Homo sapiens: one gene and its partners. The protein of the gene in region 7 purifies or fractionates together with the protein of the main gene of each other region. This does not show direct contact. Each region holds a gene or a part of one and is shown on either strand. Other genes may lie near its edges.

Region 1 (4,280 bases), on a different chromosome or scaffold from region 7:
GCTTCTAAGCCCTTACAAAGTGAAACCCCAGATCCCTGGGGACTTACCTTAACTCTGGATAGACATTTTCAAGGTACCATTTGAAAGGCTTGCAGCTGAGTTTCTTCCTAAGCTCCAATCTGCTCTGAATACTGGAGAAGAGGGAAATAAGATTCCTTTATAAATTTTAAGAATAGATGGGCTTTCTACATCAAACTTGAAAATCTGCTGAGGAGAACAGGGTTGGGGCAGGTGGTGTGGTGTGGACTGCCCATGCTCCTGTGCCCACAACCCCTTCCCGCCTTGGCACCTGGGTAGCTGAATTCAACGCTGGGGGCAGCCCCTTACCTCCCACCCCCACACCCCAAGAATCCCCAGTAATTGTGAGAAGGCAGAACTGCCACTTACTTTCCATAAGGAACGTTTCTAGCAGAAGGCACTGCTGCATAATAGAAATTTTTGTATTCATCCATCCAGACCTCTGCTGCCCGGCGGGTGTTTCTAGAAAGAAAATAAATCTTGAGGTGTGATTTCCTTTCTTTCTGTCTGCATCACTCCATTTGCACCTGTCTGCTGGCGTGTGACTGAGGCGGCTCCCTCTGGGTGTGCAGCAGCTCCAGCTGGGATCACGGCACACAGCAGAGGGTGGGCTGTCCCCACCAGCACCTCGAGCTGGACCTGTGGGGAGCCAGCCTCAGCGGGTGCTTACTGAACCATTGGAATGGCTTTCTTGTCACACAGATGGTCAAAGGGCAAAAGGCAAAGTGGAAATTACAGCACGAGCCAATATTTTAAAGGAGGGACTGGGGTCTATATCTTAAAGAAGGACAAAAGAAAGTTACTCTTTAAAAACTCTCACATTACGCGTCCACAGAGGGCCGGGGCCACAGAGCACAGCAAGGAGATTCCAGGCCCCACGGCCTTCTCCGTCACGGCTACGACACTATCAGACAGCTCTGCATTAAAGTTCAGACTACATAAGATAAGAGTTCCTGGGAAAATCACTTTCTTTTCTGCGGGGCTAAGCTGAAAGACTGCCATGTTTGCACTAGCTTTTTTTTTTTTTGATGGAGTCTCGCTCTGCTGCCAAGCTGGAGTGCAGTGGCGAGATCTCGGCTCACTGAAACCTCCGCCTCCCGGGTTCAAGCGATTCTCCTGCCTGAGCTTCCTGAGCAGCTGGGACTATAGGCATGTACCACCACACCCAGCTAAAATTTTTGTGTAATTTTAGTAGAGACGGTTTCACCACATTAGCCAGGATGGTCTCGATCTCTTGACCTTGTGATCCACTCGCCTCAGCTTCCCAAAGTGCTGGGATTACAGGCGTGAGCCACCGCGCCCAGCCGGCTTTTCTAGAAGGAAAGAAAACCATGTACTTAAATCTCATAGAGAGAACCATGATTTGCCATAAATAAAGCCCCTGGGACAAGCTACTCTTGAATGTCTGACATGCATTAAAAGCTATCATCTGCATAGGTATCAGCAGTGTATTCTGCCAAGAATTATCTTAAAGCATCCATGAAGTAGCAAGCACACAGCTAACCTCTTTGCTCCCATATTCTGGTCTCGGCTATAAGGTGGACTCCCACTTCAGGCTATAGCTAGCCCTCCTTAAGAACCCCATAGGAAGGCACTGTGTTCTTCCAAAATAAATACAGTAAGGAGGTAATGCTCGCCTTTTAAAATAATTCCTTAAAATGGCGAAACTTTCAACTGATCTGAGATACCATTATTAAAATAATTTCTGTATGGGGCCTATATCTTTCATATAAGGTGATATATATACTTTTTCATTTTAGTAAGTAGAATATGGACTATTATCCATAATGCCATTCAACACAGATAAGAACATATGAATGCACCTATTCTCTGACCCAGCAGCTCTACTTCTAGAAATTTATCTCAAGGCAGCAATCAATTAGGAATGAAATATACATGTGAAAATATGCTCACTTCTGCTTTGTTTATAATAGCAAAAAAAAAAAAAAAAAAGAGAAACTTTATGACTAAATATGAGGAAGGAATCAAATGAAATATTCTGTGACCACTAAAAACATGAGTGTGCATCTTACATGTTGACAGAAATGATGTCCTGGACTTGTGGGAAAATAAAATAGTTTGCAGAATTGCATATAGTGGATATGTGTGTAGAGGCAGAAGGAGAGCCAGTGAGCAAACAAGAGAGAGAGACAGAAATAGATACTGACAGACGAATTCATCAAATTATGAGAGTGTTATGGCACAACTGGTTTGGTGATGAGACTGATGAATTTTTACTTTCTCTCTATTAAAAAATATACAGATACAACAATGAGTACTTAAAGTGCTGGGGGATACTGGATCATACATATCATTTCTCAGAAGAGCCACTAAACATTGTTAGTGGGGTTTTGCTAAGTGACCTATGCCTTAACCTATGCCTAGTCAGTTTTTAACCAGTTATTAACTTAAATACTTGTAACATCTGGCACCTGGATTTCCCCAACAGGGACATGAAAGGATTTGATTCCAGAATGTCCTAGGTTCCTTTCAGCCTTAATGATTTAAAGGTTTTATCAACTCCAGTCATACTGTTTTCAAATCACTCAAGTTTTTAAGTGACTAAATCACTTAAAAATTCCTAAACGCAAAGCAACTCTTTTCTGTCTTTGTAATAGAAAAGGATAACTAGGCAGCCCCAAGGAATGATCTCCATGTGCTACTCAGTGCTAGCTCCTTTTATTCATTTATTTATTGGTTCACTCAGGTATTTATTTGGTATCTACACCAAACAGTCTCAGTGCTGCAGATACAGTGGCACCGAGGGAGACTCACTTTTGTCCAGGCCCTCCTTGTTTTTGCAGGTATTTGCAAGTATTTAGGTAGTATTAAATAAGTATTAAATAAATATTAAATGTCATCTATTACAAGTTGGGCATCCCTAATCCAAAATGTCCTAACATCCAAAACTTTTTGAGCACCAACATGAGATAGTGACGAAACTGCCTTTGCAAAAAATTTAACAATGACAAAATTGACAGTTTAAGGCATCTGACCTGACTGACTCCATCTAACTTCTAACGTCTAAACTGCCCTTGTTCACTCCTGGGCATAGGCAGAACTAACTTTGGGAGAAACTTAGTTTATAGTTTAACTTTAAAACAAAGATGGTAACAGCCCTTTCCCCAAACAAACCCTCTTTTTGTCTGGGTACCAGACTGCCTTTGTTGGACTAACAAATCAGCCACAGATTTGCAACTTCCCCAATTACTCCTGCAGATAACATCACCATTGCAGAACGTAAGATTGGCCTTTTGTAATGTCTTTTCAGGCTTCTGCACTTCTGATGACTCCATCCAGATCTCCAGCTTGTCCTGTGGACCCATCCATGCAGAAGCAGACTCGGCAGGCACAAGGACCATTTTCCACACCCCTATGATTGCACCTCATCCAATCAGCAGCACCCACTCCCTAGTCCCCAGCTCCCTCCAGATTATCCTTGAAAAACCCTAGCCTCTGAATTTTGGGGGAGATTGACTTAAGTAATAAAATTCCAGTCTCCCACTTAGCCAGCTCTGTGTGAACTAAACTCTTTCTCTATTGCAATTCCCATCTTGGTAAGTCAGCTCCATCTGGGCAGCGGGCAAGGTGAATCCAGTGGGCGGTCACAGTGACGCCTTTGCTTTCTGATGGTTTAATGTACACAAACTTTGTTTCATGCAGAAAATTATGAAAAGTATTGTATTAAATTAACTTCAGGCTATGTGTATAAGGTCTATATAAAACAAACAAATTTTGTACTTTGACTTAGGTCCCAGCCCCAAGATATCTCATTAGGTAGTACATATAAATATTCCATATCCTGAAAAAGTCAAAAATCCAAAATATTTCTTGTCTCAAGCATTTTGGATAAAAGATATTCAACCTGTATAGGAGATTAAGAGAAACTGCAGCTGGAAAGAGACCTCAGAAATACAGTGATATAATTCCACTTCTTTATCTTTCAGATGAGTCAACTGAGGTAAAGAGCAACCTGGCTGAAGGTCAACAGCAGGGCTTTTTAATCAGATCCATGCTGCCCCAAAATAATGAAACCCTGGATCAGCTTCTTTTCCAAATCTTGAGAATACAGGCTCCTGGGCTGTGAAATACAATTTGAAAATGTTTCTCTTCTAACAAAGAGTGCAATGTCTTGAGTACTTTAACATACTGTTTTCTGAAATCTCACTGTTTGCTGGTAGGTATCAATGGCTTTGGTGTGGGGCGTCTGATATGTCTATATAAAGAATCTCATGCTGCCCCAGGAAAAAGCACATATATCC
Region 2 (4,280 bases), on a different chromosome or scaffold from region 7:
GGCCACTGGAGTCAGTATCCAAGACTGTAGGGATGACAGCACTTCGGGTGGGTACTGCATTGTACCTCTCAGGGACTTAAGTTTCTTTGATTCTCCAAGTCACAGCAGCACAAAGCCTAAGAGCCAGGTTCGTTTCCCACCTTTCCTCACCCCCGCCTGTCCACGCAGCAAATGAAAACTGCAGGAGAATGCCAAGTACCTTATTTTCTTTGCTGGCCTCTCCGGTGTCTGGGAGCGGGAGGAGGCTGGGCTAGAGAAGGGTGATGAACTGGGGCCATTTCTCTTCCAGAGCTAAAAATCAAGAGGGACATGACTGAGCCTGCTGATAACTTAGCATCTGACCCTCAACACGACAAAGTCTCTTTTCAAGTGACTAAAAAAACATTCTTTATGGTTAAATGGTTAGTCATGCCTGTAATCCCAGCATGCTGGGAGGCCAAGGTGGGAGGATCGCTTGAGCCCAGGAATTTGAGCCCAGCCTGGGTAACATAGCGAGACCCCTGTCTCTACAAAAAAACTGAAAAATCAGTTGGGTGTGGTGGTTTGCATCTGTGGTCCCAACTACTCAGGATGCTGCAGTGAGCTGAGATTGCCCCACTGCACTCCAGCCTGGGTGACAGAGTGAGACCCTGTCTCAAAAAAAAAAAAAGAAAAGAAAATGAAAAAAATTTGTTTGTGAAGAAAGACCCCTGAAAAGAAAGTCAACTGCCAGTATTAATTATGAAAGCAAAAGAAGAAAAGTCTATAAAAGTAATGGAATGCGAATAAAGGTAGAAGGGATGGACACACTTTTGCATATATTAGGTGGAACGTTAGCCTCAGTAATGAAGAGCCAGGACACATTCAAACCTGTGCCAGACTGTCTACGGAGAGGATAGAAGTAAATTAAAGAAGATAACCCAGTAAACTAATTTAGTCTTGCTTCTATTAAATTTTCTATTTTAATTTACTAACTTCATTTTAAAAATATGCTGTCGTAACGTTTATGACTTTTGCAACAACGATGGCATTTATCATCATGTGATGATTATCCATACATCTGCCTCTTCCACCAGGTGAGTTCTTGACAGCAAAGACGGTGTTTTCATCTCTGCTTCCTCCACAGACCAGCAGCAAAGTAGATGGCACAGAGCGGACACTGCAAATAGTCTCGTAAGTGCTGAGCCTAATTACAAAGCCACTAAACTGTCACCTCAGACCGTCTTTCCTACTTGAAAAGCTGCTAGTGATTTCTTACCCAGTACCAGCTACATCATATAAGTACAAACAGGAAGCCAGCAATGCTTAATAAGAGTTCAAAAAGGGAAAAGAGGAAGCTTCAGACAAGTGGTAAGCAGCAGAACAGTTCAGTGAGGCCACCATCAGGAAGCCGGGCCCAGGAGGAGCTTGAGAAGACTGCTCACGGCAATAACAGTTGAAGTTACGCTCAAACAGCAAGAAAGGCCAGAGCACAATGGTTTAAAAAACATGGGATTACAGGCATATAAAAGAGCAGAATACAAAAATTCATCAAAGGGATCCAAGGATTGAATATATAAGCGGCATTTTCAATCACTTCAGATCCCTGACACTACCTCACTGGTTCTCAAAGGACGGCTCAGTCACCTGTGGAACTTTTTTTTTTTTTGAGACGGAGCCTTGCTCTGTTACCAGGCTGGAGTGCAGTGGCGCGATCTCAGCTCACTGCAACCTCCGCCTCCCTGGTTCAAGCGATTCTCCTGCCTCAGCCTCCCGAGTAGCTGGGACTACAGGAACATGCCACCACACCCAGCTAATTTTTGTATCTTTAGTAGAGACAGGGTTTCACCATGTTGGCCAGGATGGTCTTGATCTCTTGACCTCGTGATCTGCCTGCCTTGGCCTCCAAAAGTGCTGGGATTACAGGCGTGAGCCACCACACCTAGCCACCTGTGGAACTTTAAAAGCACATAGATGGCCGAGTGCGGTGGCTCACACCTGTAATCCTAGCACTTTCAGAACTGAGGCAGGAGAACTGCTTGAGCCCAGGAGTTTCGGACCAGCCTGGGCAACATAGCAAGACCTTACCTGTAGTTAAAGTAATAAAATTAAAACAATAAAAACCATAAACCTTGCATTTTTCTTCACAATGTGCTCCAGACACTGAGGGATACACATCACTGAGCAAGCAAGGGTCAGAAATGCCAAAGGGGCCAGACGAGGTGGCTCACACCTGTAATCCTAGCACTTCAGGAGGCTGAGGCAGGAGGATCACCTGAGGTCAGGAATTCCAGACCAGCATGGCCAACATGGTGAAACCTCATCTCTTCTAGAAATACAAAAACAAGCTGGGCACGGTGGCTGACGCCTGTAATCCCACCACTTTGGGAGGCCAAGGTGGGCGGATCACGAGGTCAGGAGATTGAGACCATCCTGGCTAACATGGTGAAACCCCGTCTCTACTAAAAATACAAAAAATTAGCCGGGTGTGGTGGCAGGTGCCTGTAGTCCCAGCTACTTGGGAGTCTGAGGCAGGAGAATGGCTGGGAGACAGAGCAAGACTCCGTCTCAAAAAAAAAAAGGAATACAAAAATTAGCCAGGTGTGGTGGTGCATGCCTGTAATCCCAACACTTTGGGAGGCCAAGGTGGGAGGATCACTTGAGCCCAAGAGTTTTGAGACCAGCCTAGGTAACATAGTGAAGTCTCATCTCTACCAAGAAAAAATAAAGAAAAAACAGAAATGCCAAAGGAGACTGTAATGATTAGCTAGGACTGGAAGACAACTGAACAACTGGTTTAACAATTAGGGGAAAAAAGTATTACTCCTCTACTTCATTGACTGTACATACACACTCATTTCAGATCTAACAAGACAAGGATGTTTATTATCATGTCTATTCAACTTAAAGTCCTAGCCAAGTGCAGCAAGACATAAACAGAATAAGATTGCAGAGGAAAGGAAAAACTCATTATCATAGACCTGAGTGTATGTACTAAAATCCTAAAGAACATACAGATTTAGCAAACTTTCTGAATACAAAATCAGTTGTATTTCTACACACCAGCACAGCCAATCACATTTTGAAGGCACTATTTAGAATAGCATATATGAAGGCACTATTTAGAATAGCATATACCTAGGGCCAGGCGCCGTGGCTCACGCCTGTAATCTCAGCACTTTGGGAGGCAGAGGCAGGTGGATCACCTGAGGTCAGGAGTTTGAGATCAGCCTGGCCAACAAGGTGAAACCCTGTCTCTACTAAAACTACAAAAATTCGCCAGGTGTGGTGGCACGTGCCTGTAATCTCAGCTACTCGGAAGTCTGAGGCTGGAGAATCACTTGAACCCAGCAGGTGGAGGCTGCAGTGAGCCGAGATTGTAAATCTAATAAAAAAGAAGTAAAACCTCTACAGAGAAGAAATAGAGATGATGTAAATAAATGAAGGAGGCAGGACATGGTGGCTCACGCCTACAATCCCAGCACTCAGGGAGGCCAAGGTGGGAAGATTGCTTGAGCTCAGGAGTTTGAGACCAGCCTAGGCAACATAGTGAGACTGTGTCTCTATTATAAGTTTTTAAAAATTAGCTAGGTGTGGTGATGCATGCCTGTGGTCCCAGCTACTCAAGAGGCTGAGGCAGGAGAATCGCTTGAGCCTGGGAGTTCAAGGCAGTAGTGAGCTATGATCATGTCACTGCACTCCAGCCTGGGCCACAGAGCAAGACCCCTTGTCTCAAAAGTTAAATAAATAAATAACGACATTCCATGTTCATAGATTAGAAGTAAACAAGGTCAATATTGTAACAATGTTAATTCCATCCAAAGTAATCAGTAGATGAAAGGCAATCCCAATCAGTATCTCAGAACTTTTTTTTTTTTTTGTGGAAATTGACAAGTTGATCTAAAAATTATATGAAAATGCAAAAGGCCAAGATACAAGACAGTCCTGAAGAGAAATGAGAAAGTGGGATGACTGACTCTATCAAGACTTAAAGTATAAGGCTAGGGGTAAAACAAAGACTGGCACAAGGGTAGGTAGAAAAATAGACCAATGGAACAAAACAGAGTCTAGAAATGGACCCACATATATACAGACACTTAAATTAGACAAAGACGGTGCTGCAGAGAAATAAGGATGGTCCTTTCAATAAATGTTGCTAAGAGAAATGGGTATTTCTACAGTAAAAAACAACAACAACAACAACAAAAACCACCAACACCACCAAACACAAAAAAAACTAATTTTGATTCCAACCTCACACCATATACAAAAATTAATTTCAGGTGGTTTATGGATTTACATATAAAAGTAATAATAAAATA
Region 3 (4,280 bases), on a different chromosome or scaffold from region 7:
GGCTGTGGTGAGCCATGATTGTGCCATTGCACTCCAGTCTGGGCAACAGAGTGAGACTCTGTCTCAAAAAAACAAAACAAAAAAAAATCAGTTTTTATTAATTCAGTTACCTGAGCTGTTTTTATTCCAGTCCATTTCAACTGGCTTTCATGTTCCATTTCTCCATTCATCTCTTTGTTGGCTGAAATTCCTTCTCTAATCATTTCTTCAAGAGATGCTCATGGAAATTATATTTTCTGAACCTTATGTGTTCAAAAACATTTGGTGCCTACTGAAAGAAAGTTCAGCTATGTAAAATAATAATAGCTATGACTGAGCACTTTTTAAAGTCACAGGTGGTCTATACTTACACTATTTAATCCTCATAAGGATGCTGTAAATTAAGACCTATTAACATCCCCTTCACAGATGAGACTATTAGGACACAGGCGAGTCTCACTTCCTTCCCCAAAGCCTCCGCTGGCATTGCACCACTGTTGTCTACTATTGAATGTGGCTATGGAGAAATCTGGGGCCAATCTGATTGGTTTCCCCTTAAAGGTGCCTTGATCTTTTTGCCTGGATGCTCAAAGGATAACTTATTTTTGAAGTCCAGTGAACCTCAGTGGGATATGTCACAGGGGTCATTCTTGTCAGTTTTTCTTGGGACATTCATTGTATGTCCTTTCAATCTATAGATTAAAGTGTTTTAATTTATGTGAAGTTTCCCTTGAATTCTACTTTGAATATTTTTTCTTTTCCACTTGTTCCCATTCTCCTTCAGTTCCCATTCTCCTTCATATGGACATGGTGGATATACTTTGTCTTTTTTATCTATACATTTATCTTAAATTCATTTTATTATTTTTAAATTTCCATTTCATTTTGCTTGCATTTCTCAACCTTGTCCTCCAAAGTTTTTTGTTGTTGTTATTGTTTTTGTTTGTTTAAGACAGGGTCTCACTCTGTCACCCAGGCTGGAGTACAGTCGTGTGATCTTGGCTCACTGCAACCTCTGCCTCCCAGGCTAAAGCGATCCTCCTACCTCAGCCTCCCAAGTAGCTAGTACTACATATATGTGCCCCCAAACCCAGCTAATTCTTTTGTATTATTTGTAGAGATGGGGTCTTGCTGTATTGCCCAGGCTGCTCTTGAACTCCTGAGCTCAAGCGATCTGCCTGCCCAGCCTCCCAAAGTGCTGTTATTACAGGGATGAGCCACCACGCCTGGCCTAGTCCTCCTAAATCTTACTGTGTTTTATCCCTGTCTGTCTTTCCCCTCATTTATAATGTGGCTTTTATTTCTAGATGTTTTATTTTCCTTCCTGTCTGAGTTCTGTTAGCTTATTTTAAACTTCCTTCTATTGCCTCATCATTTCTTCTGCTTTGAAGTCTTATTTTAAACTGGTTCAGTAAGTCCTTTAAATTCATAACAATATGTTTGGTCTGTTTCATAGCAACATTCTTCTAGAAATTTTTTTCTTTTTTTTTGAGACGGAGATTCGCTCTTCTTGCCCAGGCTGGAGTGCAATGGTGTGATCTCGGCTCACTGCAACCTCCGCCCCCGCAGGGTTCAAGCGACTCTTCCACCGCAGCCTCCTGAATACTTGAGATTACAGGCATGCGCCACCACGCCCAGCTAATTTTGTATTTTTAGTAGAGGCGGGGTTTCTCCATGTTTGTCAGGCTCGTCTCGAACTCCTGACCTCAGGTGATCCACCTGCCTCGGCCCCCCAAAGTGCTGGGATTATAGGCGTGAGCCACTGCACCCTGCCTAGAAAATTTTTTTTATCTGACATTTGCTTTTCCTATTCCATTCTTCCTAATTCTTGTAGATTTGCTGTATAGATCTTTTGCTTGTTTGGTTTTGATTATTACTCATTACTGAGTGAAATGAGGTCTCCTTCAGCCAGCCATGTGCGGGAAGCAACTGGGCAGTGAACTGAGCTGGTAGTGAAGCTGCTTCTGGCCCTCTCTCCCAACCGTAGTTCATCAACAGACTGCCTCCAGCAAAGAGAACATTTCTGAGCATTTTATCATTCAGGCCTGTCTTATCTTACTATTTCATGGTGCCAAATAGAGTTCTGGGAAGTTCCCACAGCTTGTGCCCCTTAAATCTTTGTTGCAACCAGGATAATGGTTGTGCTCTGCAGATGTACCACCTACTTGGTGCTCTGCCAACTTTGTCTGAGAGTGGGGACCACAGCAGGTGTTTAATCTCAGCATACTTGTAGGCTCTGGTGTAATCTTCACTGAATTTGGCAGGTCATCCTCATTTATTGTGCCTAGGGTTTCATTGGTACCATATTTTTTCAGAGAGTGGATGGGTTTTTTTCCCTTTCTTGTTTTTGGGTGATCTCAAGGATGACAATGTGACAGAGGTAACTTTATTTTGTTATTCTAAACTTTATTTATTTTAAAACCAGAAGTTTTTTTTTTTTTTTTTTTTGAGATAGGGTCTCACTCTCTCACCCAGGCTGGAGTGCAGTGGCATGATCTCGGCTCACCACAACCTCTGCCTCCCAGGCTCAAGTGATTCTTCTGCCTCAGCCTCCCGAGTAGCTGGCATTACAGGCGCCCGCCACCACGCCTGGCTCATTTTTTTATTTTAGTAGAGATGGGGTTTCACCATGTTAGCCAGGCTGGTCTCGAACTCCTGACCTCAAATGATCCACCAGCCTCGGCCTCCCAAAGTGCTGGGATTACAAGCGTGAGCCACGGTGCCTGGCCTAAAACCGGAACCATTTTTAAAGATAGAGTGCCTCTATTCTTGGAAGGAGTAGGTAACATACCACCTTAGACCATGTCATGTGGGAAAAATAGTTTCAAAATTCTACGCACACCCCAGCAGCAACAAGCTTTCTCATAATCATATAGGTATAAGTAACAGAGCTTAGATCAAATCCAGGTCTGTCTAAGTCCAAAGCCTCAGTTCTTTTTGTCATAGAACTTACTCATAAAGGATATAGATATCTCTTTATGCTTCTTCTTGTGAATATTTTTCTATTAACTACTTTTTTATTTCCTGGTTTTTAGTGTGACAAGTACAAGACTGGAGTTATTGATGGGCCTGCATGTAACAGCCTTTGTGTTACAGAAACTCTTTACTTTGGAAAATGTTTATCCACCAAGCCCAACAATCAGGTATGGCCATTATGAATAAACATTCCAGAATTATAGTGTACTCTAATTTTACCAGAAATTAAAGGCATTATTAAAAGAATTCTTGAACCAAAGCTTTGAGACATTATATGTATTTCAATTTTGTATGCTTTGATTCATTCATTAAACAGACATTTATTTTATTTTAATTTTTTGAGACAGGATCTGTTGTCCAGGCTGGAGTACAGTGGTGAGATCTCTGCTCACTGCAACCTCCACTTCCCAGGCTCAAGTGAGCCTCCCACCTCAGCCTCCCATGTAGCTGGGACTACAGGCTCACACAACCACACTTGGCTAATTTTTTGTATTTTTGTAGAAACAGAGTCCCGCCATGTTGCCCAGGCTGGTCTCGAACTCCTGAGCTCAAGCAATCCACCCGCCTTGGCCTTCCAAAGTGCTGGGATTATAGATGTCAGCCACCACACCTGGCCAGTCAAAAGATATTTATTAATCTATCCCCAGTATATTCCAGACACTGTTTTGTTTTGTTTTTTTTTTTCTGTCAGCACTTTGATGTTAGATGCTGTTTCAGTTACCAGGAATACAATGGTGATTAAGGCAACCTGGTGCGGTGGCTCACGCATGTAATCCCAACACTTTGGGAGGCTGAGATGGGAGGACCACTTGCGCCCAGGAGTCTGAGACCAGCCTGGGCAATGTAGTGAGACCCTGTCTCTCCAAAATTTAAAAAAAATGCCAGGTGTGGTGGCACACACCTGTGGTTCTAGCTACTCAGGAGGCTGAAGTGGGAAGATTGCTTGAGCCCAGGAGGTTGAGGCTGCAGTGAGCTATGGTCCCACCACTGCACTCCAGCCTGGGTGACAGAGTGAGTGAGTGTCTCAAAAAATAAAAAATAAAAATAAAAAAATACAAACAGCCGGGCCCGTGGCACGGGCCTGTAATCCCAGCACTTCAGGAGGCCAAGGTGGGTGGATTGCTTTAGTCCAGGAGTTTGAGGCCTACCTGAGCAACATAGCAAAACCCTGTCTCTACAAAAAATACAAAAATTAGCTGGGTGGCCAGGCACAGTGGCATACACCTGTAATCCCAGCACTTTGGGAGGCTGAGGCGGTAGGTCACTTGAGGCCAGGCATTCAAGACCAACCTGAGCAACATTGCGATACCCCCTCTCTACTAAAA
Region 4 (4,280 bases), on a different chromosome or scaffold from region 7:
CTCACTTGGGATATTTCATAGGAGTGGAGAAGAACCCGTGGCTACTGTTGCTCTGTCTAGGATGAATTTGGCTTAGAATAGCGAAGAGTGGAATTGTGCCTAAGGGTTCCGGGCACATTTCAGAGTGGGTGCTACCTTGGAATCCTAATGAAATAGAGATAGTGGGCAGACAGATGAGTTACTTCTTGGAGCTTAAAAGTGACTCCAAGCCAAGAATATTCTGATAATGGCTCTTCCTTGCTCTTCTTTAGAGCTGGACTAGACAGAACTCCCCAGCTTATGGGCCTCAGTAAGGGACTCACATGGATTTCAGGTGGGTTGTCATGATACTGATACCCACAGGGCAGGAGCTGCCTCTAAATCCAAAGGCCTGCGTACCCAGAGAGCTGTACAGATACTGTCATTTCCTGTGTGTGCTATGATTTGACGAAGGATGGCAGTTCTCTCCTTCACTTGGTGAACTACAGCCCTTTAGCCCTAGCTTTGGAATGAGCTGTTTGAAGATGCAAGGTGAGAAGCTCAGTAACACGGCTAGCAGCTCATTTATTCAGCAAATATTGAGCAAGCGCCTACTATTACACGCCGGGCATTGTTCTGAGGATTGCTGTATGAGCAGAGCAGACTCAGATCTGCCCTCAAAGAGTTGGACAAAATGCACTAGATGTCAGAAAGTGGACGATTGAGATGAGGGTCAAGGGCAGGTTCTTGGAAATGCCTGCAGTGAGGAGACAGGAAATGAAAGGGAGAGTTCTAGGAGTAGTCAGGGAACGGAAGAAGTACTGGGAGAGCACGCTGTCGGAAGCCAAGCAGAGATGGGTGTGAGTGGACTTGTTAAAGAGGGATTGGTCACATGCTGCTACAGAACTGGAAGGATAAAGACAGAGAAGCCCTTGGATATGGGCACTGTGAAGTCTGCCCAGTGAAGGAGGAAGGGAAATCACAGAACTTGAGAAGTGGGTGGGGTGGGGAAGGAACTCTGAGTCAGAAACGATCGCCCACCTTTTCAAGTGGTGTGGAGCAGAAGACCACTGTGAGGGTAGTGGCTCAGGGCACGGCAGAACCAGATCAACTTAAACAGGATCCAGGCGTCTCTAAGCAGGCCCACAGGCCAGCTGGGAGACTCTGGTGGCAAAGGACAGGCTGAAGAGCAGTGAGCAGGCATGACTACTGGGTGTGGACTCCAGAGAAGGTGGCACAGGGGGGTTGGGGTGCAAATAGAAGCCCTAGCCTTGAAGAGCCAGAGAGGAGGGAAGGGAGAGGGAGAGGAGAGCATGGAGAGAGCAGTTTGATATGGCATGCAGTCTCTGCAGTGATCTCAGACTTTTCAGCCCTAAGAGTAGCCCCAAAGCTTCCCCAGACATGCTAGTTAGAGGTTTTCTATATGTTCCCTTGTTCCCTGTCTCTCTCTTTTTAGGACAGGGTCTCACGCTATCACCCTGGCTGGATTACAGTGGTGCAATCACGGCTCATTGCAGCATGAAACTCCTGGGCTCAAGCAGTCCTCCCACCTCAGCCTCCTGAGTAGCCAGGACTGCACAACCAGGCCTGGTTAATTTTTTATCTTTTTCCTAGAGGCAGGGTCTTGCTATGTTTCTCGGACTGGTCTCAAACTCCTGGCCTCAAGTGATCCTCCTGCCTCAGCCTCCCAAAATATCGTTAGCCACTGCGCCCGGCCTGTATGTTCCCTTTCTTTATCTGCACACATATAAAGTTTCCTCTGTGTCCCTCTGGATGTCTTCTTCTGTGTTGATTGGTGGAATTAACTTACTCTCTGATAGCTTTTAGGTCTTTGGCTGTTAGGCAGAATCTCTAGCACAGGGACTCTTGCATTTTATAATCCATCTTTCTCTTATTCACATTAGCTAAGAAGATTTTAATAGTTTGTATTACAAATAAACCATTACATGTGTGTTTTTAAAATCTACTTCTGTTCTTTATACCCTTCCAGCCTTACTTCATCTCCCAATTAAAAGAGGAAAAAATAGGATTCAGGCTTCAGAATCAGCCTTTCATTTGAATCCTGTCTTCCCTCAGTGTGAACCTTGGACAGGTTTTCTAACCTCTTTGAATCTCACTTTCTGTCTCTGTGAAATGGGAATAATACCTCTCTTGGAGGTTTTTCCATGAAGATTAAAAACAATATATTTAGAAGAATGCAAACATTAGTGTATGTAAGTTCCTAGAACTCTGCTACCCCAACTGTGTTCTGTGGACCACCAGCATTGGCAGCACCTGGGGGAATCTCAGGTCCAAACTTGTGAATCAAAGTTTGTATTTGAACAAGATCCGCAGGGGATTCAAATGCATGCTAAAGTTTAAGAAGCATGTCTGGAGGAGGTTTGGCATACAAATTACTTGGTAGTCTGGGCTTTCTCAGTGGGACTGAGGCAAAGCCATGGTCAGAGTCTGAGCTGGAGGAGAGTGGGCTGGGGCTGGACCCCACGGGAATGTGACAGTCATTCAGTTAGCAGTGAAGGATGGAGGATAGCATAGGTCTGTAGTAAAGGCAGTGGGCCTAGTTTCGTGGCTTTATCCCACCAAGTTTGGCAGCCTAGGAGGGACAGCATCATGTGGTCTCTCCATGGAATGAGAGTGGAAGGATGAGTGATAAAGGAACCGAGGGAACTGATGAGAACATCACAGGAAAGATTAGCCAAGGAGTACACGTGGGATAGGCAGGTGAGTGGGGCTTCCAGGCTTGATGCACCTGCAGAAGGTTTGAGGGCCTGGAGGGCATGATGATGGCATAAAAGCAGATTCTGAGGTGCAAGGGAATGGGTAGTCTAGGAAAGTAGGAGGTGAGGATCAAGAGAGGTAACTTCTGAGTTCAGGGTTTTGGCAGCAGAGATCTAAGGGGAGATAGGCTGGATGGCTAGTAGTGACATAAGCATTTATTCAGAGTTTCTGCCTCTTCCACCATTTTGGCTGGTTGAGCTAATATCTGACTGGGTTGGGCCTGAATGGATTAGGAGAGAGGGGTGTGACTTAGAAGCATTAGCCCTAGGCGTTGTGGGGAAAAGGCAGTAACCTATGACTAAGATGAATTGGGGGTTGGGGACCAGGTGCGATGCAAGAGAAACCAATATGAGGGTTCTTTCCTTCCCAATAAATTCCTGTCTACCTTTTTTGTAGCATTTATTTTGTGCCAGGCACTACGCTTTTCTTTTCTTTTCTTTTTTTTAAAGAGAGGGGGTCTCTGTCACCCAGGCTGGAGTGTAATGTTGCAGTCATAGCCCACTGCAGCCTCAACCTCCCTGGCTGAAGTGATCCTCCCACCTCAGCCTCCCCAGCAGCCGGAACCAGCTAATGCACTTTCCATAGATGAACTTATTTAGGAGGCTTCATAGCCCCATGAGAGTAGGCACTGTTGTTACCCCTGTTTAATAGATGAGCAAACTGAGTCACAGAGGTGAAGTCACTTGCTCAGGGTCACAGTGTAAGTGGCAGACTTGGGATTCAAACCCAGGTAGTCTGGCTCCAGAGTGTGGGTTCATAACCACAGTACACTAGTCTGTCTTTCCATGTTAGTCAAAATATATCTTTGAAAACACTGAAAGGAATTGATATAATTAGCTAAATTGTGATAACATTTGTTTCCTTGTCTTTCAAGACAGGAGGCTTGGATTTTGGCCCTTGTCCTTCTACTCACTAGTTTTGTGACCTTGGACAAGTTGCTGAACAGCTCTCAGCCCCTGTAAAATAAGGGTTGGGCTAGCTGATCCCAAAGGTCTCCCCTTCCATCTCCAGAATTCTTTGAGTTCATGCTGACCCCTGCTGTTGGCCATGTGGCCTCTTGGCCCAGCCCTGGCTTCCTGCCCATCTTCTGAGCACTCCTTATAATCCTGCAGCCTGTGCCTGTTGTCTCTCACCTGGCTGGTGCCTCTTCACAACAGTGGGTTGGTGCCTCTGAGGGCTCTGGAAATTGTTCGGTCCTTGTGTAGGCGACTGCTGCCTGATTGCAGCCCATTTCCTGCACACTAAGGATCTTTCCCTGTGGTTCTCTAGGGTACAGAAGTGTCCCCACCACCAGGCTAACTGGGCTTTCAGGCAGACCCCTGGGGGAAGTCACAGAAACAGTAAAACTAATAAGCCATTTCTAGATGACAGACTGTTTCGTATCATTACCAATTTTCTTTTATGTGTGCAAGTTTTGATTGAGGATATCAGCCATGAGTAAGCTGGGGCTGACTAATCAAGCCTCAGCCCTCACAAATGTGACTTGTGTCTTCTCCCTTCAGCCTAGGAAAGAGCCTGGAAGATGTTCCACAGGTTGCCCTTTT
Region 5 (4,042 bases), on a different chromosome or scaffold from region 7:
TATCCAAATTTCTTATTGACAATCTGTGCCTTACTAATGTTAGACTATGAAATGTTCCTATGATAGTAGCTTCTTATCATAAATTATGTTCATGGCACTATGGAAGGGCCTATATGGAAAGCATAAATAAATGCAATACCAGTCACAAAGAGATACAGAACATAAGAGGACATCTTCCTTATTTTCTACCTTCTTTCTTCTGTGAGGGGAAAGGGAAGAGGTGTGAGTTTTGGCAGGAGATGGTATCATCAACTGAAGGAGAGTATATCAACTTAAGATTGTTTCCTGGAAATACAATTTTTAAATACTAAATGCCAGGTTGGTGAAAGCTGTTTCAAGTTTGAATACTTCTTTTTATAACCACTAGATGGAGCTTAAAGACTATCTTATATAATGCTATATGCTTTTAAAAACAAACTCTAAACTCGTTCATCTAGAAAAAAGAATAGATTTTTTATTCAGTTGGACAACCTTTCATGTACACTAATTACAGCTAACTAGTTTTCAAAGAATGATATATTTATACTTAATACTAAACTATAGAAAATAAAACTTTAAAGATTAAGAAGGAATCTAAATGTCGATACCATTGAGTAATGATATAAACAGGTTCTTTTGTTGTTTCTTGTTGTCTTCGGTGCTGTATTACAAATATAATTCCTTTATTTGTGACAATATAATTAAATCCTCAGTATCCATTCAGCAAATGCTTGAGAACCAACTCTGTGAAATACAATTTTCACATGTTTTGGAAAAGTTAAGCCTTGTAAATTAAATCTAATTTGTTCTTTAAAAAAAAAAAAGATAAAAGTCCTCGTTTTCACAAACTCATTTTGGTCACTTCGTCAATTATGTAGAGATTCTCCTATGTTCCTAGTTACAGAAGTATCAATTTTATTTTCTAGCTTTGGTACACTTTTCATGTTGGATTACGATGTGAGATTTTGAAACAACTGTTATAATTTACATTAAATATCATTTTTAAGTTGCATATATAAAATGGAATATCAAGAAAAGTTTAAACAAACAATGATTCAAGTTAGATTAGTAGATTAGATTCTGTAGTAGGATGAACCCACATAGGTAAGAGAATTTAATTTTTCCTTCTTAGACCCAAAAGCAACAATGAGTAACAGAATTTTTAACCACAACACATTCTTAATAGAAGGGTGTTTTTTTTTTTTTTTATCTTAGTACCTTGTTGTTAACTATCTTAAGATCTTTTCTTATTTTTGTAGGCTTCTGTTTTGGAAAATCTGAGGCTAGCGGTACGATCTCAGCTTGGATTTACTTCAGTCAGGCTTCCTATGGCAGGCAGATCAAGCAACATTTGGAACCGTATTTTTAATTTTGCAAGATCACGTCATTCTGGGTCATTGGCTTTGGTCTCAGCAGATGGAGATGAGGTTGTCCCTAGTCAGAGTACCAGTAGAGAACCTGAGAGAAATCATACTCACAGAAGTTTGTTTTCCGTGGAGTCTGATGATACAGACACAGAAAATGAGAGAAGAGATATGGCAGGAGCATCTGGTGGGGTTGCAGCTCCTTTGCCTCAAAAAGTCCCTCCCACAACGGCAGTAGAAGCGACAGTAGGAGCATGTGCAAGTTCCTCAACTCAGAGTACCCGAGGTGGTCATGCAGATAATGGAAGGGATGTGACAAGTGTGGAACCCCCAAGTGTGAGTCCAGCACGTCACCAGCTTACAAGTGCACTCAGTCGTATGACTCAGGGGCTACGCTGGGTACGTTTTACATTAGGACGATCAAGTTCCCTAAGTCAGAACCAGAGTCCTTTGAGACAACTTGATAATGGGGTAAGTGGAAGAGAAGATGATGATGATGTTGAAATGCTAATTCCAATTTCTGATGGATCTTCAGACTTTGATGTGAATGACTGCTCCAGACCTCTTCTTGATCTTGCCTCAGATCAAGGACAAGGGCTTAGACAACCATATAATGCAACAAATCCTGGAGTAAGGCCAAGTAATCGAGATGGCCCCTGTGAGCGCTGTGGTATTGTCCACACTGCCCAGATACCAGACACTTGCTTAGAAGTAACACTGAAAAACGAAACGAGTGATGATGAGGCTTTGTTACTTTGTTAGGTACGAATCACATAAGGGAGATTGTATACAAGTTGGAGCAATATCCATTTATTATTTTGTAACTTTACAGTTAAACTAGTTTTAGTTTAAAAAGAAAAAATGCAGGGTGATTTCTTATTATTATATGTTAGCCTGCATGGTTAAATTCGACAACTTGTAACTCTATGAACTTAGAGTTTACTATTTTAGCAGCTAAAAATGCATCACATATTCATATTGTTCAATAATGTCCTTTCATTTGTTTCTGATTGTTTTCATCCTGATACTGTAGTTCACTGTAGAAATGTGGCTGCTGAAACTCATTTGATTGTCATTTTTATCTATCCTATGTTAAATGGTTTGTTTTTACAAAATAATACCTTATTTTAATTGAAACGTTTATGCTTTTGCCAACACATCTTGTAACTTAATATACTAGATGTTAAGGTTGTTAATGTACAAAAAAAAAACCCTTATACTCACCTGCGTTTTCATTTGTTTGACATTTGTCTATTATTGGATTTCATTATCATATGAACTTGTCAGTGGGAAACAAACTGTCTAAAAATTTTTCTCTTACGTTTAACATACAATCATGTGAAATTTAGGCAGAGTTCGATAAATTACTGGCAAAAACAAAACTCTTTTATAAAGATTTTCTAATGTTGACTTTAATACTCTAACATGGTACAAACCAAATGGTAAAATCCCAAGTCATTTCTTTTTTCATCTCTATTTAGCAACAGAATTAAGTGGATGAAGATATTCTACTATGCATTAAATCTTGAACTTTATAAAACATGTACAAAAATTGTACAAGATAAGTTCCACCTGGTAATGTCTTTCCCTAATACAGGGTTGCGCTTGCATTGGACCCTAGGGATTTGCACTAAAATTATATCAAGGTCTCAGATGAGCTTAGTGCACAAGCACTATCACTTTAAATACTATTATTTGCTACCACAGCAACTATATATTTCCATAGCTTTTGGCTGGGGGCGGGGGACATTTTTATTACAACTTGAAATTGCTTTGCTGGTTTCATATTTATTTGTTGTATTTAAAAAATACATTGTTGTAAGAGTGATTTTTTCAATATATTTTATTCCTGGGGGGGATCATGCTACACTCTCAAAAGAAAATTAAGAAATCATTCAGATCATCCCCCCTTTTTAAGTAGTGTGAATTGCAAAACCCAACATATTTTTTTTACTGTCAGTTGCGGTTTATTTATTCTTTAACTGTCTGTTTTAGTAGTTTAATGATTATGAAAAATGTATCTGTGTGTGATTTGCTATTTATTAAATTTTAAGTACTTTGCTGAATGTCATTTTAAAGCATGTTTGAAGTCTTGTGTATTTGTCTGTGTTAATGCTGTCAGGAGGAACTGACTAAGATGTTTTAATATGTATCAAAAATTAAAATGATTTTTTTTATTGCCTTGAGGTACTTTTTAAATCAAAGCTGTTCTTTATTTGTTGAATTTTGGTGCATATACAAATTCAGGCCATAAAATATGCAATATATCTAGAATAAAAATGATTAGAAGGAGATCATTCCTTAACTACTTTATAGTAAAGTAGTAGCTTTTACCAGTACTCGAGGGTAAAATTTTCTAAGGACTTGAATATTATTTTGCTTGAGATTGCCCTTCAATTGATGTATCTCACAAGATGAGAGAGTTTAATTGATTAAACTGCCTTTTAATTGACGTATCTCACAAGATGCAGTAACACAATCAGTTCTCTTTTTAAATTGTTTTCACATACATTTTAGACCCCTATAATATATTCTACTGGCAGAATTTGGGTTACCAAATAATCTTTTATGCCCTAGTACTAATATATTATCAAGTACAAGGGTTTTGGTTTTCTAGCATATGTTTTAATTTATTATTTTAATTAACTAATACATCATCCTGGTTCAAACAGTAAAATGTAAATTCCTCTTCTATCCCA
Region 6 (4,280 bases), on a different chromosome or scaffold from region 7:
AGTGGGCTATAATTACACCACTGCACTCCAGCCAGGGCCACAGAGTGAGACCCTGTCTCTAAAGAAAGAAAAAAAAAAACAACCTCAGGCTCCGAGGGCACCATTACTGCTCTATACTGAAGAGCTGTGCAGCTTTTCCAGACCCGAAATGTCATCCACAAAACAGAAGTGATAATGGTCCTGCCTCACAGACTTCTTGCAGTAGTCCAGGTGTTTAGAACGGGGTGTAAAAGGCCGTGTGCCCTTGGTAGGAATCTTTGCATATGCATTTGATCATCTGCAGCCTGCCCAGCCCACTGCTTGCCCCCTCCTGGGTGTGCTGGGAAGGGGTCTTTGGCCCTCCAGGGGTTAGGTGCCCCAGCCTCCAAGGTGCCCTCACGCCTTTTCATCCCGACTCAGATGCTGACCTGACCTTTGACCAGACGGCGTGGGGGGACAGTGGTGTGTATTACTGCTCCGTGGTCTCAGCCCAGGACCTCCAGGGGAACAATGAGGCCTACGCAGAGCTCATCGTCCTTGGTGAGTGGGCCTGGGAAGGGGGAGGCATGGCCCTTCCTTTTGTCCGCTTCTGTTCTGTCTGCCCTCCCCTGTGTCCGCCCTCTGCCCTCCAGCTTACCCTCTGGGCTCTGTCGCCTGCTCTGCTCTCCCCCAGGCTCTGCCAGTCACTTAGGCTCCCCTGTGCCCTGCACCCCAGGCAGGGACCACTGGCCCACAGTGCCTCCAATCACCCAAGCCAAACTAAGAGAAGAGTGGAGACAATTGGAGACTCTGCCTTTTCAAAGTCTCATTTTTAAAAAAAATCCAGACTTGGGGTCCGGGTGCGGTAGTTCATGCCTGTAATCCCAGCACTTTGGGAGGCCGAGGCGGGTGGATCACTTGAGGCCAGGAGTTCGAGACTAGCCTGGCCAACGTGGCAAAATCCCGTCTCTATAAAAAATATAAAAGCCAGGCGTGGTGGTGCACATGCCTGTAATCCCAGTTACTCAGAAGGCTGAGGCATGAGGATTGCTTGAACCTGGGAGGCAGAGGATGCAGTAAGCCAAGATCAAGCCACTGCACTCCAGCCTGGGCGACAGAGTGAGACTCTGTCCAAAAAAAAAAAAAATCCAGACGTGGTCAGAGTCCATGGGCAGTGAATGAGGACAGTTGATGGTGTGCAAAATCGACCCACCTCTTGCTACATCCCCAAGGCCTCATCTCACCCGAGTCCCTCGCCAAAGCACAGCGGTTTTGCCGTGTGCCCTGCTGGGATGGCGCTGCATGGCACACACACTGTGTAAGTTTGAGTGCAGCTGAAACGAAGCCGATTCCAGACACCCAGGGGCAGGGCGGGGTGTCCGTGTGGCTGGGAGGCCTCCTTGTGTTAGGGGGATGTTGCCATCGGCCAGGTGCCCTGCTGTAAGCCAACACATGGAGTCTTGTATGACATGTGCTCTGCATGAGTGATGCCGCTGGGCTGTACACTGCCATCTTCACATGTGTGAATGAGCACGTGACTGGGGGGTACTTGGGCTGCAAGACAGAGTTCATGTGTGGGGGATGGAACACGTGCACCAGTGACCCAGGAACCTCTGCCTGTTCTTCGGTAAAATGCACCATTTGCATCAGCAGTTCCCAAAATTAGTCTCCAGGTCTATTTACACTCTAAAACATTATCGAGGGTCTCCAAGAGCTTTTGTTTGTTTCTGTGGGTTTTATGTCTATCTGTTGCTTAACATATTAGGAATTAAAATGGGGAGATTTTCCTTTTTTTTTTTTTTTTTTGAGATGGAGTCTCGTTCTGTCGCCCAGGCTGGAGTGCAGTGGCTCGATCTCGGCTCACTGCAAGCTTCACCTCCTGGGTTCACGCCATTCTCCTGCCTCAGCCTCCCAGGTAGCTGGGACTACAGGCACCCGCCACCACACCCGGCTAATTTTTTTTGTATTTTTAGTAGAGACTGGGTTTCACCATGTTAGCCAGGATGGTCTCGATCTCCTGACCTCGTGATCCACCCACCTGGGCCTCCCAAAGTGCTGGGATTACAGGCATGAGCCACTGCCCGGCCTTAAAATGGGGAGATTTTTCAAGCCCAAGATACACAAGGAAGACTGGGCAACATGGCAAGACCCTGACTCTACAAAAAATTTTAAAATTAACCAGGCATGGTGGCATGCACCTGTGAGCCCAGCTTCTTGGGAGGCTGAGGCAGGAGTATCGCTTGCACCCAGGAGGTCAAGGCTGCAGTGAGCCGTGACTATGCTACTGCACTCTAGCATGAGTGACAGAGACCCTGGCTCAAGAAACACAAACACACACACACACACACACACGCATATAGTCCATTAGGCATCAGGGCGATGATGGCATCAGGGAGCCTGGGAAACTCTACTGGACATTCATGGGAGAACAAGTGAAAAAGGCAAATAACATCTTAGTGTTATTCTAAAATTTCTTCTTTTGGCCTTGTGGACAGGACCACGCTTTGAGAGCTGTGACTGACATGCCTCTGTCCTGTTGCGAGGGCCTATAGTGCCAAGTGCATGAGCTCTGGGGAGGGCTTCGTGGGTGCAGAGCTGGGCCTGTGGAGGCCCCTCAGACACAACACTGGTGGGGCTCAGAGCTCCAGGGGCACTCGAGGGAAGACAAGAACCGGCTCTGAGATGCGTGAATGTGACAGTGCATGAGTAGAGATGGAGACCTTGTGGGTCCCAGAACCAGGACTGCATATGACTTTCATATGTGGGTATTTTTGCCTTCATGGGTCCCTTCCTGTTTTAAAAAAAATGTGTGATTATGTTGTCACAAAGAGTTTATTCCTGTATATTGTGTTAATTTGTGTTCAGATTTGTAAAGTAAAATTAAACCATTTCAGCCAGGTGTGGTGACACATGCCTGTAGCCCTAGCTACTTACCCCAGAGGCTGAGGTGGGAGGATCGCCTGAGCCCACGAGGTTGAAGCTGCAGTGAGCCATGATCACACCCCTGCACTCCAGACTGGGCGACAGAGCTGAGATCCTATTTCGTGGGCCCTAGGTCCCTGTGCCTGCTGGAACAGGACATCCCTATCACCGTGGTTGGAGCCCTTTGGGGTGCTAAGACCTATGAATGAGGGAAACTTAGGGTGCCCAAGCTGAGGTAGAGCCCTCAGAACCCCCTGGGATTTGTATTGGAGCCCTCGTGGCATAACACAGGTGGATTATGCAATGGGAGTTTCTTACCTATAAGCACCCACATGTGGGCGGGTGGAGGGTAGGAGCCATGCACTAGGGCTTCAGCCCCCAGCCCCTTCCCGCTTCAGGGCACACCTTGCACTTGGCCAGCCTGGAGCTGGGCTTTCGGGGGTGGCACAGCCTGGGCTGGCTCTGGCCAGCATAATCTGTTTCTCTTTTGTCCCTCCAGGGAGGACCTCAGGGGTGGCTGAGCTCTTACCTGGTTTTCAGGCGGGGCCCATAGAAGGTACGGGGGGTGGATCCTGAGTTGGGCTTCTCGGGAGCTCCCATACATCACCTACTGCTTCTGACTCTAGTTAGTATCCCCTTCCCCACTAAACCCTGCTCACTGTGGACCCCTCACTAACCTGGCCTGACTGTGGCTCTGAGGCATCTAGTGGTCTGGCGCTGGGCCTAGGCTAGGCTGGGCTGAGGAGAGCCTGGGGTGCAGGCCAGGGCTCTGTGACTGGCACCTGCGGTGCTCTTGAGGGTGTGGCGTCTGGGCAGCTGGCTCTCTCTTTGGTCTGGGGGCTGCAGTCTGTCTCCCTCTGTGCAGGCTGCCTCGTTTTCTGCCTTGTGTTTTTTGCACCTGGGGGAGGGCCGTAACTGGGGAATGGCCGGGATGGTAGAATGGGGAGTGTGCTGTGCCCAGCCTCTGGCACAAAAAATCCAGCCAGGGCTGCAGGTTCCTTGGTGAGCTTTGCAAATCGTCCCCGACCTCAGTGCTGGCTCCGCACCATGTACCCCTGCTGTGCCGTTAGCCCTGTTCCCTCCCAGGCCTCCGGGCTCAGGGCCTGTTGTCTTTCTGCAGACTGGCTCTTCGTGGTTGTGGTATGCCTGGCTGCCTTCCTCATCTTCCTCCTCCTGGGCATCTGCTGGTGCCAGTGCTGCCCGCACACTTGCTGCTGCTACGTCAGGTGCCCCTGCTGCCCAGACAAGTGCTGCTGCCCCGAGGCCCGTAAGTGTCCCGCTCATGGCCACCCTGGTTTGGGCAACATCCTGCATCCAAGGGAAGGAGGTGGCCATCCACCTGCCCCCAGGACAGTGGCGTTGGTCTGGAGGGTGTGAATTTAGCCAGTGGGGAGAAAGTA
Region 7 (4,280 bases):
AGGTCACAGCTAGGGATCACCGGCATGCAGGAACTCAGAAACCTAAATGGGGAAATCTTTTTGAGGAAATGAACAGAGAAGGCTAAAATCAAGGAGTTCGTCAGGCAATTTCTATGTTTAGGTTCAACTCTCTCCTGAAACATGAAGAGCTCATAAATGCACTCCCTCTTTGAGTCTCTAGTTTTGTCTCCTTCCCACAGTGAGTCTGCAGGCTGCGTGTCACTCACGTTCAGCTAAGACGTAGTGCCCCATGGCTCCTCCTGTGGAGACAAGAGACCCAGGAAAGAGGCATCACAAACCTAGGCACCATCTTGCCTCTTCTCTCTTCCTTATTTTCCTCATTCACCCATCTCAATTTAGACCTGGGCACTATTGGATTTCAAGAACCATTATCTCTCATCTGGAAATGCTTATTGGCTTTCTAACTGGTCTCCTCACCTCTCATCTAACTTCTTAACAACACATTCACCATATAAGGGAGATCGTGGTCCTCCTTTCTTAGGATCCTTCAATGACACCCCAGTGATCATAACCCAATATCCCAAAAGACCCTTGGACTCTGTATGAGCTGGCTTCTTTCTGATTCTCTTTTCCCTACACCACAGATGTTCAGGGGGTAGAAATGCATAATTGGTGAGTGATAGCTACGCAAACTCAGGGTTAAGGTACAGTAATTATTTCTAATCTCCCAGTATGCCTTATACTCTCCTACTTGGCATGGTTGCTCCGTCTGTGTAGACCTCCCATCATCTTCAACCTCACCTAATGGAATCCAGCTTCTCCTTCAAGATCCAGAAGGCTATCTTGATCCCCAGCTGAATGTGATCATTCTTTCCTTTGACACCCTAAGCATTTGCTTCCTGCCTGCTTTAGGACCTCATGGGGTCTTCTTTAACTACATTTACTTGCTATCAATTTCATTCCCTACCAGATTTGGGTTCTGAGAATAGCCACAGTGACTTCTCAACCTCAAAGCCCCTGTACTACCTTAAACAGCTCTTGCAAAATAGTAGGTGCTCTGAAGATGTTTGTTGAATTAGAGACTTTCATTCTGGGGAGAACCATTATTTTCTGTCTCCCAGGGAGCTGCTGGTGTCCCCAAAGAATATAAATGAGAAAAATGCTTCCCATGGATGCCAGATCCCCTCTGCCCCTCTTCCCACTGTGCCCTGGGGCAGAGGTACTAAGAGACTTCCCCCTTGTTCCTACTCACTTGAACCCTGCCTCTTCCTTAATATTATGAACAAAATTCCAATGAACAAGATGACGACAAAAACAGCAATTCCACTGATGACTCCAATGACTAGGGTGCCAGACGGTGAGGGCTCTAAAACAGAAAAAGCAAGTTAAAGCCTTTGATTGCCACCCTCAGCCCACCCCCTAACAAAGAGCAGATCCTCATCTCACTGCCATAATTACCTCCTCAGGCACTCCTCTCAACCCCCAATAGATTTTCTCAGCTCCTGGCTCTCATCAGTCACATACCCCAGATCACAATGAGGGGCTGATCCAGGCCTGGGTGCTCCACCTGGCACGTATATCTCTGCTCTTCCCCAGGGGGTACAGCCAAGGTTATCCAGCCCTGGTAGGTCCCATCCCCATTGGGCAATACGTCTTTAGGTTCGAACTCCTTGGCATCCATTGGCTGCTTATCCTTCAGCCACTTCATGGTGATGTTCTGGGGGTAGTAGTTCAAGGCCCGACACCGTAGAGTGGTCACTGAAGAGGTCACATGATGTGTCACCTTCACCAAAGGAGGCACTTGACAGGAAAGAGGAAGGATGAGGAGAGGGGATCTGTTTACCCTTGCCAGGAAGACTGGAACTTTCACTTCCTTCTATAGGTTGGAGGAAGGAAATACCCTTTTCAGAAAAAAACAAGCTACAGGAGAGACACCATTTTGTGTCCTAAGATTGGACTCTAACACAGTGTCACTTGGAGAGCAGTCAGATCAGCTTGTTCTCCTCACATGTAAATATACATATCTGTTACCCATGTTCTTTGTTCTGATAGATAAAATTGCCCTTTATGTGCATTGAAAATGATTGAATACAGATGGTCAGTTTCACCTGGGTCAACCTAGGAGGCATTGTTATAAGAAGCGGACTTGTAAGATAGGTAGCTTCAGTGATTATTGCTATGTTCTATGAAAGAAACTTTTAACCTAAAGGATTCTTCTACTCTGATAAGTGGCCTCACTTGATATTTTGTCCTGGTATTCATATGATAGCTGAGATCTCTGAATTCTCTTTTTTTTTTTTTTTTTTTTTTTAAGATGGAGTCTCACTCTGCTGCCTAGGCTGGAGTGCAGTGGCGCGATCTTGGCTCAGTGCAACTTCCGCTTCCCAGGTTCAAGCGATGCTCCTGCCTCAGCCTTCCAATTAGCTGGGACTACAGGTGCGCATGACTGTGACCAGCTAATTTTTGTATTTTTTTAGAGACGGGTTTCACCATGTTGGTCAGGCTGGTCTCAAACTCCTGACCTTGTGACCACCCGCCTCGGCCTCCCAAAGTGCTGGGATTACAGGGGTGAGCCACCGTGCCCGGCCTTGACATTTCTGAATTTTTAACAGGTATAAATATACAAAAGATTATTGGTTAAATAAAAAGCAAGGGCCATAGACACTTCCCTTTGAGCCATATGCATGGAGAAAAGAAATTAAACCCATGACTTGTGGCTGTCTCATACATCTCAATTATAAGGTAGAGACTCTAGGATTGAGAAAGTCCCTTCCCAGAATTTGGAGAGGCACACAGCCTCAGCCACCTCTGAAACTCCAACCAGGGATTCCGTGCCCTGCAACCTCCTCCACTCTGCCACTAGAGTATAGGGGCAGAAGTGTGTTTCCACCATACCTTGTTGGTCCAAAACACCTCTCCCCAGCTCCAGCAACTGCTGCAGCTGTGCAGGGCAGTCCCTCTCCAGGTAGGCCCTGTTCTGCCTGGCCCGAATCTTGTGCCTTTCCCACTCCAGCTTGGTGGGCCAGGCCCTGGGTTCTGCTGCTCTCCAATCCAGTGTGTCAGGGCAGAATTCAAGGTGGTCCTGCCCATCATACCCGTACTTCCAGTAGCCCTCGGTACTGTTGTCTTCTTGCATTTCACAGCCCAGGATGACCTGCAGGGTGTGGGACTCTGGAAAAATCCCCAGCCTTGTTAACTGCAACCAAAGGAATAGGTCCCTATTTCCACCATCCCCAAGGACCAAATGATCTCAGGAAGCAAATTCCTTCCCTCTTCCCTGCTCCCACAAGACCTCAGACTTCCAGCTGTTTCCTTCAAGATGCATGAAAAGATGAAAAGCTCTGACAACCTCAGGAAGGTGAGGCCCCCTCTCCACATACCCTTGCTGTGGTTGTGATTTTCCATAATAGTCCAGAAGTCAACAGTGAACATGTGATCCCACCCTTTCAGACTCTGACTCAGCTGCAGCCACATCTGGCTTGAAATTCTACTGGAAACCCATGGAGTTCGGGGCTCCACACGGCGACTCTCATGATCATAGAACACGAACAGCTGGTCATCCACGTAGCCCAAAGCTTCAAACAAGGAAAGACCAAGGTCCTGCTCTGAGGCACCCATGAAGAGGTAGTGCAGAGAGTGTGAACCTGGAGACAGAGCAACAGGCCTTAACCATGTGTAGTAGGAGGGGAGCAGGATGTTGAGGCTCCACACACCTGCATCAACTCATACCATCAGCTGTGTCTGGTCCTCATTTTGTGAAGGGTGAGTTGCAGTCCTGTCTTTCTTCCATATGACAGTCCTGGGTGCTCTTTCCTTGTGTGCTTTTCTCTGCCACACGTGGCTGCCACCCCCTCACTGCCCCCAGATCCTATTCCAATACTCATGATTAGACAGACTCCACTAAAGCTGGTGGATTCTAGAAAATGTTAAGGTGTGTCTAGCCATGGTAGTTGAACTCAGGAGTTGGTGCTCAGGGCAAATTAGACCCAAATCCTGAGGAATAATTCCTTCAGTTTTTTTTTTTTTTTTTTTTTTTTTTTTTGAGACAGAGTCTCACTCTATCACCCAGGCTGGAGTGCAGTGGCACAATCTCAGCTCACTGCAACCTGCACCTCCTGGGTTCAAGGGATTCTCCTACCTAAGCCTCCTGAAAACCTGGGACTATAGGCGTGCGCCACCACACCAGGCTAATTTTTGTATTTTTAGTAGACATGGGGTTTCACCATGTTGGCCAAGCTTGTCTCAAACTCCTGACCTCAAATGATCTACCTGCCTCAGCCACCAAAGTGCTGGGATTACAGAAGTGAGCCACCGTGCCC

The links.
Region 1: the proteins of HFE (region 7) and GALNT2 purify together in Homo sapiens (affinity purification with mass spectrometry; one large-scale study listed by BioGRID and IntAct). This does not show direct contact.
Region 2: the proteins of HFE (region 7) and POM121 purify together in Homo sapiens (affinity purification with mass spectrometry; one large-scale study listed by BioGRID and IntAct). This does not show direct contact.
Region 3: the proteins of HFE (region 7) and DIPK1A purify together in Homo sapiens (affinity purification with mass spectrometry; one large-scale study listed by BioGRID and IntAct). This does not show direct contact.
Region 4: the proteins of HFE (region 7) and PTGFRN purify together in Homo sapiens (affinity purification with mass spectrometry; one large-scale study listed by BioGRID and IntAct). This does not show direct contact.
Region 5: the proteins of HFE (region 7) and LRP12 purify together in Homo sapiens (affinity purification with mass spectrometry; one large-scale study listed by BioGRID and IntAct). This does not show direct contact.
Region 6: the proteins of HFE (region 7) and LSR purify together in Homo sapiens (co-immunoprecipitation; 2 studies listed by BioGRID and IntAct, with this or other methods). This does not show direct contact.

What each region holds. Positions count from the first base shown.
Region 1 is NC_000001.11:230,258,773-230,263,052, reverse strand, and holds part of GALNT2 (polypeptide N-acetylgalactosaminyltransferase 2 precursor), read right to left. Parts: exon of another isoform or gene 3,966-4,280; intron 3,576-3,965; exon of another isoform or gene 3,472-3,575; coding exon of another isoform or gene 3,290-3,471; intron 481-3,289; coding exon 388-480; intron 132-387; coding exon 48-131; intron 1-47. Other genes in the region: uncharacterized protein LOC124904542, read left to right, coding at 3,290-3,471. UniProt on the Homo sapiens protein: Catalyzes the initial reaction in O-linked oligosaccharide biosynthesis, the transfer of an N-acetyl-D-galactosamine residue to a serine or threonine residue on the protein receptor.
Region 2 is NC_000007.14:72,934,601-72,938,880, reverse strand, and holds part of POM121 (nuclear envelope pore membrane protein POM 121), read right to left. Parts: intron 292-4,280; coding exon 200-291; intron 1-199. UniProt on the Homo sapiens protein: Essential component of the nuclear pore complex (NPC). The repeat-containing domain may be involved in anchoring components of the pore complex to the pore membrane. When overexpressed in cells induces the formation of cytoplasmic annulate lamellae (AL).
Region 3 is NC_000001.11:92,849,690-92,853,969, reverse strand, and holds part of DIPK1A (divergent protein kinase domain 1A), read left to right. Parts: intron 1-3,014; coding exon 3,015-3,122; intron 3,123-4,280.
Region 4 is NC_000001.11:116,916,236-116,920,515, forward strand, and holds part of PTGFRN (prostaglandin F2 receptor negative regulator precursor), read left to right. Parts: intron 1-4,280. UniProt on the Homo sapiens protein: Inhibits the binding of prostaglandin F2-alpha (PGF2-alpha) to its specific FP receptor, by decreasing the receptor number rather than the affinity constant. Functional coupling with the prostaglandin F2-alpha receptor seems to occur.
Region 5 is NC_000008.11:104,488,736-104,492,777, reverse strand, and holds the end of LRP12 (low-density lipoprotein receptor-related protein 12 isoform a precursor), read left to right. Parts: intron 1-1,238; coding exon 1,239-2,105; 3' UTR 2,106-3,542; downstream 3,543-4,042. UniProt on the Homo sapiens protein: Probable receptor, which may be involved in the internalization of lipophilic molecules and/or signal transduction. May act as a tumor suppressor.
Region 6 is NC_000019.10:35,258,546-35,262,825, forward strand, and holds part of LSR (lipolysis-stimulated lipoprotein receptor isoform 2 precursor), read left to right. Parts: intron 1-399; coding exon 400-519; intron 520-525; exon of another isoform or gene 526-1,276; intron 1,277-2,453; exon of another isoform or gene 2,454-2,857; intron 2,858-3,379; coding exon 3,380-3,436; intron 3,437-4,000; coding exon 4,001-4,147; intron 4,148-4,280. UniProt on the Homo sapiens protein: Probable role in the clearance of triglyceride-rich lipoprotein from blood. Binds chylomicrons, LDL and VLDL in presence of free fatty acids and allows their subsequent uptake in the cells.
Region 7 is NC_000006.12:26,090,166-26,094,445, reverse strand, and holds part of HFE (hereditary hemochromatosis protein isoform 1 precursor), read right to left. Parts: intron 3,724-4,280; exon of another isoform or gene 3,606-3,723; coding exon 3,342-3,605; intron 3,133-3,341; coding exon 2,857-3,132; intron 1,838-2,856; coding exon of another isoform or gene 1,805-1,837; intron 1,762-1,804; coding exon 1,486-1,761; exon of another isoform or gene 1,420-1,485; intron 1,328-1,419; coding exon 1,214-1,327; intron 261-1,213; coding exon 220-260; 3' UTR 43-219; coding exon of another isoform or gene 35-42; 3' UTR 1-34. UniProt on the Homo sapiens protein: Binds to transferrin receptor (TFR) and reduces its affinity for iron-loaded transferrin.